Linked DNA regions of Homo sapiens: region 1 is linked to region 2. The links come from fine-mapping of genetic effects on gene expression. Tissue or cell type: whole blood. Region 2 holds a variant in brackets; the other region holds the start of a gene. All regions are shown on one strand. Distances are between the middles of the regions.

Region 1 (11,143 bases), 30 kb after region 2:
CACTTAAAACTACCACCTCCATTTCTAAAGCAAAAAAATAAAAAAATAAAAAAGGAGGAACAGAAGGAAGGAGGGAGTGAAGGAAGAAAAGATATTACAGAATTTCTCAACATCAGGAGTACTGACATTTTGAACTGGATAATTTTCTGTTGTTGAGAAGTTGTCTTGTACATTGTGGGACATTCAGTGACATGCTATAATGGCCTCAATCCACTAGATGCTAGGAGTAATGTCCCCACACACAAATGTGACAACCAAAAATGTTTTCTAGACATTGCCAAATGTCCCCAGAGTGTGTTGGAAAGTAAAAAATCATTCTGAGTTCAGATTCTTCACAGTATCATCTTCCAGTATTTATTTCACACTGCTTGGTGGCTTGCAATGCAGACTGAAATTAATAGCTTTGCAATTGAAGAACCAAATAAGAAAATACTCCCTGTAGAATAGTAACAACTTGAAGAATAATAGCTACGTAGTTATGGTTAAATTATTCCTTTCATCGACATACTGGTTTTGCTTACTATTCCCTAAGAATTTTCTTCTGGGTGTTCTTTTGGGGTTAAAACTTGGTTAACCTGTCACTAAAGCTTAGTCTCCACCTAGACTTACTAATTATTAGCCATTAGTGTAATGTGTTAAAATCAAACCTAAAGATTTTAATTTTTAAGCAACCAAATGTGAAATGAAGCAAAAATAAGTGCTACTTATATAAATTATTTAAATATATTCAAACATTTAGAGTGTAAAGTACACAAACAAGCATCCAGCTACTACTACAAATATATATGAGTTGAAGATAATAATGCAAAAATAAAAGTGATTGCAAGAAGTAGAATTTTGACAAAAACAAGAAATGGGGAAAGGATTCCCTATTTAATAAACGGTGCTGGGAAAACTGGCTAGCCATATTGAGAAAGCTGAAACTGGATTCCTTCCTTACACTTTATACCAAAATTAATTCAAGATGGATTAAAGACTTACATGTTAGACCTAAAACCATAAAAACCCTGGAAGAAAACCTAGGCAATACCATTCAGGACATAGGCATGGGCAAGGACTTCATGTCTAAAACACCAAAAGCAATGGCAACAAAAGCCAAAACTGACAAATGGGATCTAATTAAACTAAAGAGCTTCTGCACAGCAAAAGAAACTACCATAAAGAGTGAACAGGCAACCTACAGAATGGGAGAAAATTTTTGCAATCTACCCATCTGACAAAGGGCTAATATCCACAATCTACAAAGAACTTAAACAAATTTACAAGAAAAAATCAAACAACCCCATCAACAAGTGTGCAAAGGATATGAACAGACACTTCTCAAAAGAAGACATTTATGCAGCCAACAGACACATGAAAAAATGCTCATCATCACTGGCCATCAGAGAAATGCAAATCAAAACCACAATGAGATACCATTTCACACCAGTTAGATTGGCGATCATTAAAAAGTCAGGAAACAACAGGTGCTGGAGAGGATGTGGAGAAATAGGAACACTTTTACATTGTTGGTGGGACTGTAAACTAGTTCAAACACTGTGGAAGACAGTGTGGCGATTCCTCAAGGATCTAGAACTAGAAATACCATTTGGCCCAGCCATCCCATGACTGGGTATATACCCAAAGGACTATAAATCATGCTGCCATAAAGAGACATGCACACGTATGTTTATTGTGGCACTATTCACAATAGCAAAGACTTGGAACCAACCCAAATGTCCATCAATGATAGACTGGATTAAGAAAATGTGGCACATATACACCATGGAATACTATGCAGCCATAAAAAAAGGATGAGTTCATGTCCTTTGTAGAGACATGGATGAAGCTGGAAACCATCATTCTGAGCAAACTTTCACAAGGACAGAAAACCACACACCACATGTTCTCACTCACAGGTGGGAATTGAACAATGAGAACACTTGGACACAGGGTGGGGACCATCACATACCAGTGCCTGTCGTGGGGTCGGGGGAGGGGGAAGGGATAGCATTAGGAGACATACCTAATGTAAATGACGAGTTAATGGGTGCAGCACACCAACATGGGACATGTATACATATGTAACAAACCTGCATGTTGTGCTCATGTACCCTAGAACTTAAAGTATAATTTAAAAAATAAATTTAATTAAAAAAAGAATTATATTTAAATGCTCAGTATGTACTATCACTGGGCTAGACACACTGTTTTCAACAATAAATCTTCATATATATAAAAGTACTCATAAAATAGTTTAAAATTTGCTTGTGCAAATGTAAATTTTAAAAGGAATCTGAATTTTATTTACTATCTAGGATGTTATATTTCGCATGGTCAGTGTTAGAAACAGAGGGTCCTGTTGTTTTCAGATAGAACTTACCATCACTCCCCCTCTGCTGGGAGCTACCTGACACAATTAAATAACCATCAACCTGCCCTCACTGTGCCTGAACTTAAAAGTCAATAACACCTGAGCATCAATAGGCTATTGACTATGCAATTTTACTTTATACCATATATGGGTATCTGATGTTCCTGGGAAACTAACTGCAAATGTGGTGTAAATAAAGACTAATCATTTCAACTCCATTAAATGTAGGGAAGCTACAAGAGCAGATTTAAAACGTTGTGAACTGCAAAATGAGATGGCACCCCTCTACATTTACGTTAGTAGAGGGCTTCTGTTTAGAGTAATCATAGATCTGGTTATTTAGATACTTTCCCAATGAAAGCTTAAAACAAAATATAATTTTATATATTTTTAAAAATTCTGAAATTAACCATAAAATCTACGGCAGTGCAATTTTATATAATTCTTACATGGTTTAAATTTGAAATACTCATGTTAGGAAGTAACAAAATTGTGACAACTGTTGAGGTTATGGTATGCCATGAAAGATCTACGGGAACAAGACACATCTTTTTTTGTTTGTATTTTTCTAGTCTCCATGTTCTACAATGATCCAGCTATACGAGATGTAATCTGCAATTCCACCTACAATATATATCACCAGATCCCCTTTCTATGACAAAAAAAAAATACATGTCAATGTTAGAGATGGTCAGCAAAGAAACTCAAACTTATTCCAATAGGTGGAACTTTGGCATGACACACTTAAACCGGTGGAAACCTGCCTGAATACTTCACCCAACCCCTCCATCACCCTCTATTATGCAAGCTGCAACATTTCAAGCCAACTCCCTTATTTCTCTGGTGAGCCCTGTCAACACTGAGGTAATAGAACTGGAAAAACTCATCACTTCAAAAGGACAGTCAAATATCAGAATTTATTTCATTTGGTAAAAATTCTATCATTGCCAAATAAAGCTAATGCAAATATAGTAAAATATGCATGATTTTGAGTAATTCTTTTGTTGAAAAGGACTCTTGGGGAGCCTCAACTTCATCCTGCAACAGCTTAGGCATTCTTTTGCCCCTTTGCCCTTTTCATGCCCCATCTCACAAGTCATGGAAGCTGGGGAGGGGAGGGTGCAGAAAACCCAAATGAACTAATCGGCATGTATTTATGCATTTAGTCTACTCTAATTTTATTCCCACAGGTTTTTCCTCATACCCTGCTCCTCTAAGGTAAAGAACTGTTTTATTCATCTCTGAACTTCCAAAACCTAACCAAATGCCCATTATATAAAGTCATCCCTAACATCTACTACACAGCAGGCACTGGATTAGGGACTAGAGATAGAGAAGTCAAAGAGACAGACCTTGCCCCTACGGAACCTACAGTGGGGAATACCAGATACTGGCTGCATGAACCCAGTCAGGTCGTAATCAAAGACCAGTTAGCACAGTCCCACTGCCTATAATCTTTCTCCCACAGACAACCAAAGCTTAGATGAAAAACAAAAGCATGCTTTCTCTTCAGAAAAATAAATGGGTATCTCCAACCCTGACCACTCCCCTGAGTTCCATATTCACAGGCATGCATACTCAACATGTTCACTCGGAGGTGGTTACAGGGATTCAATGCATGGACTCCAAAGCCACAATGCTTAGGTTTGAATCCTAGCTACATCACTCACCAGCTGGGTGACTTCAGACAAGTCACTTATAACCTCTTTTTGCCTCTATTTTCTCGTGCTGTAAAATGGGGACAATAATGGTTCCTTGCACATATAATTCTTATGATGATTAAATGAATTAATATAGGTTAAAGTACTTAAAACCCTGCCTGGGACTCAGTTTACGCTTACATAATACTATTTTTACTAGCACTGTTGTTATGACTATGTCTAACAGGCATTTAGAACTTGTGCAAAACTAAATTTGTAATTTTCCTCAGTAAACAGCACCACTATACTTCTAGTTGTTCCAGCCTAAACCTAAAAAATCATCACTTCTCCCTTTTCTTCAAATTCCACATCAGCTCGTTTCCCGTCAGCTCTACCTTCAAAACGTATCACCAATTCTACCGCCTACCATCATCTCCACAACTAACCTCCCCCAGCCCAAACCACCATCATTTCACCTGCAGGGCACAGCAGCTTTCTCCCGATTTTCACTCCATCCGACCCACTCTAATCTACAGTTAATTCTCCATACAATAAAACTTAAATCAGACACCAGTCCCTTGATGCAAACCTTCCAATGGTTTTCCATCACAGTTAGAACAACATCTTTACTTCACCACAGCCTACAAGGGACCCCACGGCCTGCCTGGCCCTTGACCATCATTGGCCACTACTTTCCCCGTTCCCGGCTGTGCTCTAAACACTCTCACTGTGTCTGGACCACCTCAGAGCATTGTCCTGTGCTGTTCCTGCTGTGAGGCCGAAAATACAGTCACCTGGAGCCTGGACTCTGAAGTCAGACTGCCCACGTTCAAATAGTCTCTACCACGTTTTAGCTGTGCAACTTTGGCAAATTCTTAACCTTTCTGTGTGTCAGTTGCCTCATCTATGAAAGGGAGATACTAGGTTACATCAAAAGACTTGTAAAAATTTAATTTAGTGTTCAGAATAGTGCCTTACATATGGTAAGCTCTACTTTTTTTAAGTGTTCATTGCTATTAATTATTCCTCTCTGAAATGTTCTTACCTCAGGCTCTTTCCCTCACACTTCAAGTGTCCCTGCCTTTGAATGGCTTTTCCTGACAGATCCCACCAAAAACAACCTTCCCTGTTCCCCCACTGTCCTCCTTTCTTCCTTCCCTTCACTGCACTTATGACTACCTGAAATTACATTATGCACGTATTGTTCGTTGTCTATTTCCCACTGCAATATGAGCCCTGCTAGGTTGGAGGCTGTCTTCTTTGCTGCTCTATTTCCAGAGATTTCTGACTCACATCTCATCCAGGCTAGGGGACCAATGCGAATCTCCTAATAACAATAGCACACTTAGCCTTTCATTTGCACTCTCGTGATCTCATTTGATCCTGGAAAAACCAACAAACAGATAAACCATCGGCTCTCATTTTAGATAAGAAAAACAAAGTTCCAAGTTTGCGTGACTTGTCCTTGGACACGAAGCTAGTTAACGAATAGAACAAAAATTAGAAGCCCTGCTTTCTGATTCAAAGGCTCTTCCTACCTGGATGAAAAGATATCACACTCCTGAAATGAATTTACAGAAATGTGAACTCTCGAGCTCCTGTATAAATACACCCTGAAGTGTGCACAGTATTCTTCCCTTCAAAGTTCCTGAAGACTACTAGTCCCGGAGTTTGAGAGGCATTATAGTCTAGTAATAACTAATCGATAATGTAGTACCCCTTGACCAAAATATTCAAGCAGTCAGATACGATGATTGGATATTCCAAATCGATACAGCAATCCTTAAAACTCAGTGAGTCTGTGTTGTCTATAATGTGCTAGTTCCAGCACACTGAAAGCTTCCTCTGCAAAACCCAGACAACGGGGGCATTGTAATTGCCAAGAGTACCGTGCTAACGATACCTGTTATTTCTTGGGATCCCCATTCTATCAAGTTTAGTGACAACAGTTCGATCACCCAACAGGCTCCAGTGTGGTATAGAATCAGATGGAGGGAAGGTTGTCGGGGGGAGGCAAAACAGTGAAAAAGTTCCCCTTCTACAAGATTCCTGGTCAAATAGCCAGTGGCTACCACATTCCTCAGAATAACCAAGTGTCTGTGTATAAGCTTTCTCCTAGCAAATTTACACACTTGTGTTATCTCACGTGTTCCTAGTGCTGTGGGAACAACCATTAGGGAGGCCAGAGGCTGCTGTACCTCCCTTTTACACAAAAAAGAAAACTGAGGCAGCAACTGGTTATCTTATAAATGTGTCCACGATGACTTGGTCACTTGTGGGATCCCAACGGCCAGGACATAGGATTCCTATTCTCTGAGAGGAAGCTTCCATCCCCTACTTAACATGTCAAACTCCAAGGCTGAGAGGGGGAAGAAAAGGAATCTAAGTCCCTTTATCACGGAAGAAAAAAAGGGACTCTCCATTTGGACTTTCCGCCCCTTCTAAGGCCTCGCTCCCAGGCTCGGAGACGCGCCCCGCCCCAGGGGAAAAGGTGCTGGCCCGGCCCCACGGGGCGCGGCCTCGCCTCCCGCACCCCAGGTCCCTACCGCCCAGCAGGGCGCGCTGCCACTCTGAGCAGACACCTGTCCCTTCGCCACAATCGGCGACTCCCCAAGGAACTGACGCCCCCAGAGCCACCACCACCGCCGGGACTGCCAGCTGCCAGCGGGCCCCGCAAGCCCTAGGAGCTGCAGGAATCCTCGTAAACTTACAGTTTTCCTACAGCGTGCGCGTCACAGCGGGGTGACGTCACGGGCCCAGCAGTCGGGGAGGTCAAGCCACGGGGCGCGGGCCGCTGGGCCCCCAGGCTCCGCCCTCGCCCCGCCCCGGCGCCGCGGCGGGAGACACGCCCCCGAGCTCCACGCCCTCGAGCTCCACGCACCTCCCCGTAGCAGACACCCCGCGCAGGCGCAGACGGCCTCTGCGCCCGCATGCCTGTGGGCTTCGCCGACCGGGGCGCCTGCGGCGGCGACTGCTCTACCAAAGCCTCACTCAAAGCCTGAAGTCGGGGTTAGAGGAGGAGGAGGGGCCGACAAAAGGGGACGGAGACCTTCAGAAATACTGTAAACAAGCTGTCGCCCTGGGGGCTGGAGTAAGACGCCTGGGTTGTGAGGTAGTTTTTCCACAGACATTGCCCGCCTTCCTCACGTGTTCGTTAAAAGTTCTCCACGTGTGGAAACAGCCATTTGCTCTCCATCAGGTGCTGGCGGGTCCTCAGCCCTGAAAAGACAGCTCTCCCAGGGTCCCTCGCTCCTCCCCGGCTCGACGCGGCTCCCGCTAGACTCCGCCCAGACCCCGAGCAGTCCCCGCCCATCTCTTGACTATGCCCCTCCCACGCCCACTTAGGCCTTGCCCCTGGGTCCCGCCCTTCCGGCTCCCGCCCCTGGCTCCCGGCTCCCGCGGGCCCCCACCTGCCCTTCTTGCCCTGGCGCCGCCTCCAGCCCAGCCCGTTTCTTGCAGATTTTAGCTTCTCCCTTGCCTGCCGCCTTTCCCGTTTCGGCTCGGTGAAGCTACCTATGGGTTGCTGTTCATTTAACAAACGGTGATCCGGATAAACATGTTCACTTCTTCGCCTGGGCAAACTTTCCAGCCCCCGACCCACTCATGTCACGATACCTTCCCGTGTCCAAGTCCGGCTCTCTGCTCCCCACTTTTTTTTTTTTTTTTTTTTGAGACAGAGTGTTTCTCTGTCTCCCAGGCTGGAGTGCAGTGGCGCGATCTCAACTCACAGTACCCCCTGCCTCCCGGGTTCAAACGATTTTCTTGCCTCAGCCTCCTGAGTAGCTGGGATTACAGGCGCGCGCCACCACAGCCGGCTAATTTTTATGTTTTAGTAGAGACAGGGTTTCACCATGTTGGCCAGGATGGTCTCCATCTCTTGACCTCGTGATCCGCCCGCCTCGGCCTCTCAAGGTGCTGGGATTACAGGTGTGAGCCGCCGCGCCCGGCCTCTTTGCTCTTTTATACTCTCAGAAGCAATGAGTTCTGGTTAAAAAAAAGGGCTCGATAGACGGAAAAAATGAAGGCTTAAAGAACTGACAACAAAATATTAACATTTGGCTTGTGGAATTCTTACACTCTCGTAAGCAGAAAAAACAAATGTTATGGCAAAAAAGTGTCTCAGACAAATCCGTCTTGGGGGGAAAAAAATTAAAAGAATGAGAAAAACAGACTTCGGAATAAATAGACCCAAAGGAGGAAGTATTGAAAATGGCAAGATTCACTTTTACAAACTTATTTGGAACCACGGCAGATGGCCAGGGCAGGGATTTTGCAAGGCAGCTCCAGTTGTAAGTAAAACCTGAAACAATGGTTTATTTCCACTCTCATTGAAAGTGCTGTCTTATTTTTACAGGAAAGAGTGATGATGGGAATATTAGGCTTTAATTCGAGATCTGAGCTGGTTAAAAATAAAAACGTTTATTATTCCAGAAAAATCTACGTCAGTGTTTTTAAATGTTCTGATTTGAAAAAATATTTGTATATTTTATCTGAATATTAGTTATTATCAAATGATGTAAAAGAAATTTGTAAAGGCTGTACCATAATTGTAACAATAAGGTTTTTCTGTAGAGCAGAGGTATAGAAAAATTAACATTTTTTAAAGTCCTGCATATTTTTAAAACAGTGATATTTATGTTTTTCCTTGCAAAACAATTTTAAGAAACCTTTAAATTGTTAATAGTTTACATGCTTATAAAATGTTTTATATATATCATTTCTAAAAATCGTAATTTTTTTAAGTGAGTTTCTAGGTATACCTTATGGGAGTGTTTCACAGGTACATGTCATCTGTTATTTTTTGGAGTGGAAATGGGTAAGAAGCATACACCAAATGTATCAAATGTTTTTACTATAGATACTTTTGCCTCTGAAAGATGGCATTGTAGAATATAGTCTTCTCATCGTATTGTTCAGTATACTTTCTCTTGAAATCTCAGGTATTCAAAAAAAAAAGTCGTTGTTTTGCTAGATGCAGGAAAAAAGTAAACGCAGTGAACAAAAGATGGCCAACAGTAAAGGTACCCAAGCAAGGATCACAGTCTCAAGGAATGTCAAGTAGAAATTTGTGGGAAAATACCACTCACGTTCAGTCAACTTTCTGTAACAAACTGGAATTTGACCTAGACAGGAAGTGAGAAGCTAGGGCCAAAAGTGTTGTTATTAAAGAGAGGATCTGCTTTTTTAAAGAAAATAAAACCCTGGACCTTGGAGGTTTAGCACTGGAAGCACTGAGGCCCTCCACTATGGCCCTTGGGCTTTCAGTTCCCCCTTGTGATTCTTTCTCTTTGATATCTGCTGCCCATAGCAATCTGGCTTCCAGAGCCCTCTATGTCAATACACACATCTCTTCCCTTGGTCCTGCTTAGCAAGCTAAGAAAAGCTGAATTAAGACAAAACAGAGTACTTAATGTATGGGGAAAATAAAAGTGAAAGAAATATAATTCCTAATATTTCCTGAGTATTGATTCTGTGCCAAGCATTGCATTATTTCCTTGAATTCTTGCAACTAGATAAGAACTGTTACTATCCCCATTTTAAACACAAGGTAAGTAGGTTAAGTGCCCATGTCACACAGCTGCTGAGTAACACAGTCAAGATTCCAGACTTCATACTTCAGAACCCACAGCCATAACCACTAATCTGTCTCAAGTTTCATACAACCAGGCACAAATTATGCAAGAAACAGAGGGACTTAGGAAGTCCAAAATATGGACTTAGCTCTAAAATACTGACCACAGTGTATGGGTATCTTCTTCACTGTTTTCCATCCCATCTTTGCATGACTGCTTTTATTTGATTTTTTAAGGTGGTCATCATGACCCAGTAAGTTGATTTTGTGATCGGTTAAAGGGTAGCTACTCAGAAAAACACTAATCAGAATCCAAAATACAAAATATCAGATTGTATCACATGTAATAAGGGTATTTTTTTCCCAACACAAATTAGGGGAAACTTTCAGCCACATGTGTGTATTCTGGGTTGCAACGTTAAATGTATTTCATACTATGGATTTCAATCAAAAAAAATTTGAAAAACACTATTATAACCACGCCTTGCCTAACTAACATGCATCATTTATCCTTCAGGATCAAGACCAAGGGAAACAAAATCCCATTCTGCAATCCCCTTACATTCCTCTCTTAAGTCCCAGGATCTGGTTTGATGATCTCTTCCCAGGTAATTGACATAAAAATCAGGTCACTCCTGATTAGAGATAGGCCCTTGTCTCCAACTCAAACCCAAGAATATACTAATAACAACAAAATAACCATCTATAAAACAAGAGTTACACAGGTTAAAAGGGGGCTTATTCTGCCAAAGGAGCAGAGATAGAGACTTTGCTGGAAGAAGACCTGGGACAGAGATTGGAGAGCTCTGGAGGGATGTCTGTTTAATAACAGTCTTACAAGTCTGCAGTTACACAGTTTGCACAGTATTTCATCTCATTTTATCACCTCCCTTCCCTCATCATTTTACTTAGCTAATTCTCCCCAATCCTTTAGGTCTCTACTTTGCAGGAACTGACTCTGAGAAGCCTTCCCTAAGCAGCTTTGGCTCTCTGCATTGCAAATTATTTTAATTGCTTCTTCTCCTAGACTGTAAGCTCTGTGAGAATAGGGGAAATGTGAGTCTTAACCTCGAATCCTCTACATGTAGTATCCCAAATAGATTATCAGTTAATATGTGTAGAGGAATGCGTGGTGAATGGATGGATGAACTCGAATTCAAAGACTGGGTAGCTTTCTTACTCAAGATGCTAGTTATTTTCTAAAAAGGGGATACTGTCAATAGAAATAATTCTGATGAGAAAATTCCTTTAGGAGACAAGTCATTTTGAATGGCAATGCAGCATAACATAGTAAAGCACTGAACAGGGCCAGCTCTGTTATTAACTGGGTACTTTATGGCAAGTCCAGTAACTTCTGCAAGCCTCAAATGGGGTTAGACTTACTAAATATTACTTATTTATTTTTGAGACAGGCTCTTGCCCAGGCTGGAGTACAATGGAAAGACCATAGCTCACTATAACCTTGAACTCCTAGGCTCAAGGGATTCTCCCACCTCAACCTCCTGAGTAGCTGGGACTGCAGGCATGCACAACCACATCTGGTTATTTTTACTTTTCATAGAGATGACATCTGGCTGT
Region 2 (11,143 bases):
AGCTGACTTCTCATTAGAAACAAGGGAGGCCAGAAAGCAATGGAATTAAATATTCAAAGTACTAAAGTAAAATACTGTGAATTATGACTCTAATATCCAGCAATACTGTGTTTTTAAAATAAAGGTCAAATTAAGGCATCCCCAGAAAAATAAAGACAGAAAATTTGTTGCTAGAATATCTGTTTCACAAGAAATACTAAAGGAAATTCTTCAGGCTAAAAGCAAGTAACACCAAACAGTAATTGGAAGCCCCAAAAAACAAAGCATGCCAGTAAAGGAAATTACGTACATTATTGCAAAAGACACTGTAATTGCATATTTCTTCCCCTTTCTTCTCTTAACTGATTTAAAGAATAATTCAATAAAACACTGTAGCTATAATTTAATTATTGGGCTAACAACATTTACTGCTATACATTTAGACAATAACAGCACAAAAGAAGCAGGTGAGAACAAAGTTCTTCGGGAGTAAGAAAATGACCCCAGAGCTAACTCAAATATGCAGAAATATGTAAAGAAAATAAAAAATAGAGAGGTCAATACAACTAACTATAAATACGTACTTGCTCTCCCTTGTCTCAGCTTCTTCAAAAGACATAAAGTAAAAATTACAACAGTGTGTTGTTGGGTTTGACATAATAGGTACATCAATAATAGCAGAAAAAGTTGGGGAAGGAAATGGAGCTAACAGAGGAAGTCTATTTTGCTGAAAGTAAGTATAAATCAGAAGTGAAATTCTTATAAATCGGGATGTACACTGTAAACCCTGGAGCAACCACTAAGAAAATAACTCAAAATATATATTTTTAAAAGTAGCAAAGGAATTAAAGCATCACACTACAATATATCTACTTAATTCAAAAGAAGGCAAGAAAGGAAAGAACAAAAAAGACCTGAGACCTATAGAAAACAAAATTCGTAACTGCAGACAAAAATCCAACTATATCAGTAATCACATTAAATGTGAACAGATGAAGCAATCTAATCAAAAGAAAGATTATCAGGCTGTATTTTTATAAAAGAAAAAGAACAAAGATCCCAACTATATAAAATCTACAGAAGACACATTTTAGGTTCAATCATACAAATAGGTTGAAAGTAAAAGCTATACCATACAAACAGTAAACATAAAAGAATCAGGCAAAATACATTTTAAAGCAAGAATATAATACTAGAAATAAAGAGAAACACTTCATAATGACAGAAGGGTCAATCCATCAGGAAGGTATAACAATTAGAAGCATATATGCACTTAACAAGAGAAGGAAGAAAAGACAGTTGAAGGGATACACAATTGAAAAATAATAATTGGAGACTTCCCTCTTTCAATACTAGATAAAACCACCAGGAAGAAAATCAACAAGAATACAGAAGATTTGAACAACACTGTAAGACAGCCAGACCTACAGACAACTATATAACACTCCACTCAACAAGGCAATATGCATTATTAAGTGCACATGAAACATTTTCCAAAAGAGACCACATGCTAGGCCATAAACAACCTTCAATAATTTAAAGAGATTAATCACACAAAGAATGTTCTCTGAAACAATGGCATGCAATTAGAATACAAATCAGTAACAGAAGGAATTTTAGGAAATTCACAAAGATGGGAGGGAACCACACTCCTAAATAACCAATGGGTCAAAGAAATCAGAGAGAAAATTAGAAAATACCTTGAGATTAGTGAGAACTAAAACTCAACATACCAAAATTTATTGGATACAGCTAAAGAAAATAATACCCAGAAAGACATTTGTAGCTATAAATGCCTATATTAAAAAAGAAAGATCTCAAGTGGATAATCTAATCTTCCACCTTAAGACAGAACCTACAAAAAGAAAAGCAAACTAAACCTAAGCAAGCAGACGGAAGGAAATAATAAAGAATAATGTACAAACAAATGAAACAGAGAATGGAAAATCCAGAAAACAAAGACACTGGCAAAGGATTTGGGAATCAGGTGGTTATTGCTGTTGATAGAAAGGAAGGTTCTTATTAGGAGGAACAAAATCCAGATTGCAAGGAATTTAAGGAATAAATGGGAGGGGAAAAAAATGAAGGCAGCATATGCAGACTCTTCTTTCAATAAGCCTGAAGAAAAAGAATGAGAAGACTGAAAATGAACGCAAAAAGAAATTATTAACAAAGTCTTCTAAGAGGCAGAAAGGAATTAAAGCTCTAGGCAAATAAATTGGCCTTGGAAGATACGGCAGACACTAGTGGTTGCCTACCTAGTCTTCCCTTCTTTCTGAATAACAAAATCCTATTTTTTTTTTTTTTTTACCTTGGGAGGAGTGAAGGGCCATGAATCTTGACTAGTCTAAGCCAAACACAGGACTTCCGTACCCCTCACCACTGACTGGCTTAGAAACGGGTATAGGATGCAATTTTAGCTAATGAGGTCATGTTTTCTAGGAGGCTTCTAAGAAAGTTTTCTTCATTTTAAAAAAAGACATAAGAGAGACACCTTCTTTTCTTACAGTCATGGGTGCTTTGATATGAGTATGTCATTCTTGGAGTTAAAGCTGCCATCTTGAGATGAGGAGGGGAAAAGTCTGAAGACAAAAGCCAACTTATCAGGATGGTAGAATGAAAAGACAGAGCCAGAGAGTCTGATGATAAGAGTTAGCTGCTATATAAGCCAACAAAAAAACTATCTTTCTTCCAGATTTCTAGTTATATGAGACAATAAAATGCAGTTATTACATACGATACTTTCAGTTGGGTCTCTGTCACTTACCAGCTGAAAGCATTCTAACTGATATAGAAAGAAAGATACTTTCACAAGACAGATGTGGATGAAATTAACTTTGCATGTTGGAGATAAGGGAATTTGAGAGTTTCAGCCTAAAGTTTCATTTATTAAAGAAAATGAAACTCATATAGATCCATTTTACAAAGGGAGTGACCTTAACAGCTGCTGTTTCTTGCTTTAAAATATCAAGTATTGGCTGGGCGCAGTGGCTCATGCCTGTAATCCTAGCACTTTGGGAGGCCGAGGCGGGTGGATCATGAGGTCAGGAGTTTGAGACCATCCTGGCTAACACAGTGAAACCCCGTCTCTACTAAGAAAAATACAAAAAATTAGCCGGGCATGGTGGCGGGCCCCTGTAGTCCCAGCTACTCAGGAGGCTGAGGCAGGAGAATGGCGTGAACCCGAGAGGCGGAGCTTGCAGTGAGCCGAGATCACGCCCCTGCACTCCAGCCTGGGTGACAGAGAGAGACTGTCTCAAAAAAAAAAAAAAAAAAAAAAAAAAAAAAAAAAAAAAAAAAAAAAATCAAGTATTACTAATGATAACAATAGCTAGTAATGAAGACGATTATGATCATAAGCTCATGGTTATTAAAGTATTTTTAAAGCTAGGTATTTTATCCTTTATTGTTTACCTTCTGCATTCTATTTGACTTCAATAGTGAAAACACACCGATCTCTTTTACTTTCTGTTTATAACAATTTTCATGGCAGTTTCATTTTTCATACTTTCATGGTATATAACACAGTATACCATGATATAGTTTACAGAGGGAATCCTTAACTTTGAAGAACAAACACTTTGAAAACTAAACAATTTATAAAAAGATTTCTCTATTTCCATACACTTTCTGAATCTGGTCAAGAAAATAAAACAACATTTCAACTGCATCTGTGCAATGATAGCTTTGATTCATATCAGAAGACGGAAAATCAACACTGTAGCCACATAGATACATACCAGAGAAAGCACACTTTTAACAGAAATAACAAAAAACACTAGAATTGTGCTCTTATCCAAGCGGTTCCCAAATGGAAAAAAAAAAATCTGAAAGTTAAATTGTAAGACAGCTTTTGAAGCCCAAAACATTTTTCCTATAGAAACAACATTACTATGAGTCATGTCATTACTAGGCCAGTCCATAAAAGCCTTGTAAAACCATATGCATAAGACTGTTGTTTGAACTATACCAAAGTAGAATAACAGTTTTTCCTTGGGAAAATACATCATTTTCTCCCTCTTCTCTCTACTAAGTCCCAGAGGAGTGGGCCTCACCAGGGGCTCTGTTCACCTCTCGGAGCTCAGCAGTCATCTCCCTCACTCTGACACTCCATGGTGAGCCACACTGAACTTCTCCAACCTGCAGGGCCTCTCCACTCCAAGTCATTACTGTTATGACCTTCCCTTCTTCTTCTTGTAGGTCACCACCACTCAGCCTTCTGGTCTCAGCTTAATGCTACTTCCTCAGGAAGGCCATCCCTTGTCTCCACACTGAGTCATGTGTTCCTGATGTGTGTGCTCTCACATGACACTATACTTTCCTAACACAGCATTTGTCAATCTCCCCCATAAGCTCCACTGTTTCAGGGATTCATTTCATTTGCTATTAATGTTAAGGTCAGAAGACTGCCTGGCATTTTGACGATTCTTTACACATATTTATTTATATGAATGATTTCTCATAAGATACTTTAATCGTTTTTAACTTGATCTATGGTCATTACCAAGGAAAAGGGGGGGTTTCCAAAGAAGACTTCTCCTCCCCTCAATTTACACCTAGAGATTGTTCATAGGGAGGAAGCTACCTATCCAATTTCTTTCCCATTGCTGGTTTATAGTCACTTAAATGGACATTAAAATTTTAGCAAATAGGTATATTTTCTTTATTTGTCTTTTTAGAAGATGAGGCCTTTGAATGATGAAGGAATAGGTATATTTTCTAATATTAACTTTATCTCTTTTTTGTAGGTAATGTCACTCATTCTCATGACTTTTATGTCGGCAACGAAATGCTTATTCCCAAATTTGTGTCTCTATGCTTGATTTTTCTCTCAAGCTTAGAATCCAAACTTTCAGCTGTCTACAATTTTTATACCTGAATGTCCCACAAAAACTTCACCCCATCCCCCTGCCCAAGCTTTCTTTTCTCTGGTATTCCCCATTTCAGGTATTTCAGATAATGACATCACCATCTAGCCAGCGGAGTCTCACACCCACGTTATCTCGTCCTTGTTAATTATTCACTGGACCATGGCCTAACAGTGTTGGCATCACTTGGGAGCAGAATCTGAGGCCCCACTGCCAGACCTATTGAATCAAAATCTACCTTTTAACAAAATCCCTAGACAATTCACATGCACATTAAAATCTGAGAAACACTGATGTATAATTCCTTTTTCTCTCTACCCCCACAAAACTCTGATACCAAGTCTACATAGGCAAATATATTCCCTCCCATCCATTTCTGTTATCATGGCCCTGATTAAGCCATCACTTCCTGTGGTGATGTGGAACACTGCAATGGCTTCTTAGCTGACCTCATTCCTGTAGCCCACTGTTCACCCAGACTTTTAGAAGGGACACTCTGATGTACAGCTATGAGAGGGCATATGGTTGGCTGGCCAGAACTGTGCATAATGTAAAGCCTGTCCTATCTATGTTACAATTTAAAATCTGGGGATGCTCACAAAATTGTCACATAGAAAAGCATGCAAAAAAAAAAAAAACTTTTCTTGTGTTTCCTTGTTATAATCACTGATCTCAATTTTCTTTCCAAATACAAACCTAATCATGTCATATCCCTCTCCAAAATCTTTTAGTGGCTTCTGAAGACATCATGTATTTCTACACTTCTACCTTTCTGTTCATGCTTTTCCCCTTTTCTCCTATCCATCTTGCAAAAATCTTGCCCATCTTCTAAAGTCCTGTTCGAGAGTTATCTTACCAGAGAACAGTCATCTCATCTCACCAGCCCTCTTAAGAAATAACTGCTTCTCCATTCACTCTACAACCCATTGCACTCATTACAACACGATTACAACACTCATCTTGCTGTATGAAAGGCCCATGGATGTCTGTCTTTCCTGTCAGACAAGGACTTCCTTAAAG[G/A]AATTCTGTATTTCAGTCATTGGCAGATGGTAGATACTCAAAAAATGTTTTAAAAAAACAACTACCATTTATATTTGACATTATTAAAAGCTGTAGAACTCATCGCTGATAATGTGAATGTATTTACAAACTATAAAATACTAAGTACCATATCTTTCAAGTTATATGCACCCAGGCACAGTAAAAGCTCAAAAAATGCTTGGGGACCTAATTCAGTCACATAAATGCAGCTATCCTTAAAAGCCCACATTCTGGGGAGGCCCACCCTATTTCCTGAGAGTTCAATCAGATAATTGGACAGGACACAGAGAGGTTAATTCTGATGAGAAGAGAGGGAGGTCAAGTGTGCCAACTGATTTTAAAAATTATATATTGTATCATAAAGATTGTAATAAAGAAATAAAAGTTTGTTACCTATAACTTTAAAATATTTAAAAATTCATTTTCTGCATATTACCTTTCTAATGCAGTTGAAATTACACTAAACATATCATTCTGTATTTGGTTACAAAATTTTGCCATAAGTTACACTTATAATTGCACTTTAGTGATCATGTTATTCCATCACCCTAACATATTGTAGTTCATTAAAACATTCACCAAAATCCAATAATTTAGTTCAATAGTTATTGAATAATTACTTGTATACCAGACCCTGATGCAGGGCCTGACCAGTCCCAACCTCAAGAACTCCCCAGCCAAGTGGTAGGGACTGATTCATACACCCATGGCTGCAATACAGTGCCGAATGCAAATCAGAGTGCTCATTGGCAGGGCTGAGTAAGAAGGGATGCCCCCAGGATCTGAATGCTGCTCTCAAGAGATGGAAAGTCAACAGAAAGAAGAGGGGAAGGACTCATAAAGATGAGACGTAAGAATTTAAAATGGCACAGCATGTTCAGGGAAAGGCAGTGGCTGGGAGTAGCACAAGAAACACATAAGACTGAATGGGTCCATTTCCTTAAAGCCTCTCCAGAATTGTCAGTTATTTTAATTTTCAGTATTTTCGAAAGAATAGAAGAGATAACTCAAGGTTAACTTAAAAGGCATTTCTTTGATTACCAGTGACGGTAAACATAATCCCACCTTTTTATTAATCATTAACTGCTAAAATACTTTGTTTACTTATGTATTAAAACTTCTTCATTAAGTTCGAGAGAACTTCCTCTTCAGATATTATAGATATTCACCCTTAGTCACATTTGATACAAGCATTTCCTCCAGTGTGTTGTGTGATTTTTTTCATTGTAAATAAACCTTACATTTTATATGTTCAAAACTATTAGATCTTTTCCTTGGTGAGTTTTCCCTCTAATACTGAGTCATCAATCCTTCACAAATCTGAATATTGTTCTATTTTCTACTACTTTTCAAAAATACGATTAAAAAATATTTAGCTCTTGATACTAGCTAGACCTGATTTAAAAAACATGATGTGCATAAACATTCACATACAGGCCATTATCCTCCCTCTTCCAATCCTACTCCCACTCCCTTTGCTAAGATGGCTAGGGAATGCCCTTTCATCCAAACTCTTAATTCATTTTAATTCAGGTTCCCTTATATAACAATACGGAGAAGAGAGCAGCTAGAGCATGTGTCCTTTGCAGTGTCTTTAGAGATGGCCCTGAAATGGCTATGACCCCTACAAAAGAATTACAAAGTAGTATATTAAGGTACATAACATGGACAGAAAACATTTATGGGATGTATCAGCAATAAACATAGATGCTAATTTAAAGTACTAGTAGATACCTTCTAAGTCCCCAAACAAGTAATGCAGGTTTTCTTTAAGGGCCTGGAATGTATAGCCTTTTGACTAACTTCCTATTACAGAAGGCAGTTTTCAAATTAGCAAAGGGGGCTCAGTCCAGTGGTATACAGGTGAACACGTCTGACTCCCATGGGGAGTCTGGAAATGTGGGGAGGCATTTTTTAGATGTCACAATGAGAGAGCACACTATTGCAAGTCTTGAGATGTGTAGGGCAATCTTGTACAACAAAAACCTGTCCCATCCCAAATGCCGATAGCCACCTCACTTCAGCTAAGGGCCTTCCAGCCCAAGATGATGTGCTTCCTATATTTAATGAAGGAAACACTCCTGACTTCCAATTGTTCTATCTACCCTGCCACCCAGTACATGTTTTACCGTGGGAGGACCAGCCCTAAGTAAGATTGTGAGGTAGAACAGGTAGTATTGGATGTCTTGCTTACTCTTCCCGTTGGGTCCCTTGTTTTAAAACCCTGTTCTGGCCTGAATCCCTTCAAGTAACATCCCAGGAAGTTCTGGCTTGGAGGAACCCAGGAACTTGGCTACTGTCTTCTCATTCTGACCCACCAAAACCTGTTCCCTGCAAGTTCTTAGAAAACATCTGAAAAACAAAGCATACTCTGATACTAACCTCATGAAGGTACAAGTGCATTCTTCTCAGGGCTATTTGTGTTTAAGCACTAAACTAAAGATGCCACTCCTTATCATATGCCCTACTACCATCCTTATACAAGCTACTACCATTTTTCACTGTGATTACCACAGTAGCCTCTTAACTGGTCTTCCTGCTTTCAGTCTTCCAAGTCATAGTCTATGCTCAAGAAAGAGCTGATCTACGTGAGATCATGTCATTTCTTGGCCCAAAACTCTCTGGTGGCTCCCTAGTTTACTCCAAATAAAAGCCTCCAATGGCTTTTATTGGTACCTCCAATGCAAGATCATAAATAATCTAAAATCTGAAAATCTGGGGGGAGAGCATATATGGAAGAAAAAACAAGAGTCCATTTTGGTCACATTAAATTTGCAATGCCTAGGAGACATTCAAGTGGAGATGTCAGAAAGGTGTTATCCCCAGATCCTCAGAAGAGAACTTCAGGCTACATAAGTACTTCTCAATGGGGGGTGATTTTATGCACCCAGGAGACATCTGGCAATATCTGGAGACATTTTGATTGTCACAATAAGGGTAGAGGGAACTCTATTGGCAGTTAGAGCATAGAGGCCAGAGATGCTGCTAAGCATCCTACAATCCACAAGACATCCCCTGACACTGAAAAAATTTTCCAGCCCAAAATGTCAATAGTGCTGAAGATGACAAACTCTGGGCTAGAGATAATAAGACTTACACAAAAAGATTATATTTAACCAAAAGTACAAGATGAAAAACAAGAGAACTAAACCTTTCCTCTTTTAGATGTCAGGTAACACAGAAGACAGAAAATGGTCAACTAGAATGGGAGAAGGAAAACCAGGGAAGGGTTTGTCTCAAAGGCCAAGAGACAAGTGTTTCCAAAAGGAAGCAATGGTCAATTGTGGTCAACTGCATGGAAAACTGCTAAGACATCAAATAACACTGATAGGGGGTTAAAAGGTTTGAGAAGAATGAAGGCAGTATGCTGTGAGGAGTGAGGGAGTGAGATAATAGACACGTCGGAAGACTGCTGGACAATTTTAAGGCTGCTGAGCGTATCATTAAAGTGAAAAAACTGGCAGGTAGTTGAGCTCATCCAGTTCTGAGATTGGAGAGACCAAAGAGGTACAAAGGAATTGAAAGAATTTGCCGGAAAATAATTTGAATCAAAGCATCTAGGCTGGATAAGGAAGGAACTGGTAACAGAAAGGAAGTGATAAGTAGAAATGTGGGGGAGGGGGCTGGAAGTCATGATGAGTCATAAATACTTTTCCCACATCAATAAATAAACTTCCTATATGCTTTTAACTGTTTCATAATAACATAGCCTATTTCTTGATATTATTAAGCAAATGTGATTATTACTTTAATAAGTTACCAGAGATAACAAGTGTTGGTGATGGTGTGAAAAAGAGAAACCTCATACACTGTTGGTGGGAATGCAGATCAGTGCGGCCACTGTGAAAAACCATACAGAGGTTCCTAAGGAAATTAAAAATACAACTACCATATGACTCAGCAATTCCTCCAGTGGGTAGATATCCAAAGGAAATGAAATCACCATCTCATAAAGATACTTGCACTCCCATGTTCACTGTAGCATGAGCCAAGATTTAGAAACAATAATAGCCAAGATATTGAAACAACCAAAGTGTCTGTCAACAGATGAATGAACTGTGAGTTATGTGTGTGTACATATGTGTGTGTGTATATATATATGTACATGCACGTACGTAAATGGAATATTATTCAGCTTTAAAAAGGAGATCCTGCCATTTGCTACCACATGGATGAATGTGGAAGACATTATGCAGAGTGAAATAGGCAAGACACAGAAAATGCATGATTTCACTTATATGTGGAATCTTAAAAAAAGAAAAGAAAAAGAAAGTTGAATACTTAGAGAACAAAATGATGGTAAACAGGGGTGGACGGGGGAGAAAATGTGAAGATGTAGGTCAAAGGATACAAAGCTGCAGATACGCAGGATAAAGGGGTCTCGATGTCTAATGTATGACATGAGGACTATGGTTAATACTGTACTGTATTTGAGATTTTTGCTAAAAGAGATTTTCCTGCCACTAAAAAGAGTAACTATGTGAGATGACTGATGTTAATTTGCTTGACTGTAGTATCCACTTCACTGTGTGTATACATCAAAACATCATATACGTTAAATATATACAATAAAAAAATAGGTATTTACTATTTGAACAATGCTCATCATCCTATTTACTTTTCCTAAGTAGGATCAAATGGTATTTGTGGGAAAGATCATGTTATTGTGAAAGATATGCATATATGATAAATAACAGATCTGGGTTAAAATATCAGCTCTTTCATTTATTATGTTGTGACCTTGGACAACTTACTTAATCTCTCTGAGCCTAAATCTCTTCAGCTTATTAACAGATTGTGGTACACAGAATATTGCCTCCCTCAAAGGATGTCCATCCCTTATTCCCTGGAATCTCTGTCTACCCTATATTACATGGTATGATATTGTGAAATATATATCTGGTCTACATCCTCATTTCCTGGCACACAACTGCTAAAATCCTTAGAATCTCCAAAGTGATGTCTTTTGTATGCTAATGAGTGACTGATGGCTGGCAGTCCCTGGGTAGCTTCAGGATGGAGGCTGGACACTAGAAAGACCAAAGCTTGATTAGAGGGTTGGGACGTTCAGTGACACCCTCCAAGCTCTAGGAAGGGGAAAGGGTCTGAAAGTTAAGTTGATCACCAACAGCCAATGATTCAATCAATCATGCCTACCCAATGAAGCTTAAATAGAAACCCAAAAGGGCAGGGTTTGGAGAGCTTTCAAATAGCTGAACACATGGAGGTTCGCAAATGGTGGTACACCCAGGGAG

What was found. PIP is the estimated chance that this variant, and not a neighbour inherited with it, causes the effect.
Region 1: it holds the start of ZNF438, and the variant in region 2 is fine-mapped to the expression of ZNF438 in whole blood (TOPMed, PIP above 0.99). The same link has a PIP of 0.9 or more in blood mononuclear cells.

The regions. Positions count from the first base shown.
Region 1 is chr10:31,025,129-31,036,271 of GRCh38, forward strand. ZNF438 (zinc finger protein 438) reads right to left here and starts at 6,737. Exons shown (of 7, transcript NM_001143768.2): 1 at 6,705-6,737. LOC105376481 (a long non-coding RNA gene) reads left to right here and starts at 7,380. Exons shown (of 3, transcript XR_001747410.3): 1 at 7,380-10,173. RefSeq lists a silencer at 6,399-6,958.
Region 2 is chr10:30,995,304-31,006,446 of GRCh38, forward strand. The region is part of intron 1 of ZNF438 (zinc finger protein 438); the gene reads right to left. Among named protein-coding and RNA genes, the nearest start is that of ZNF438, 31 kb to the right of the region's middle. The variant G/A (reference allele first, on the strand shown) is at 5,868.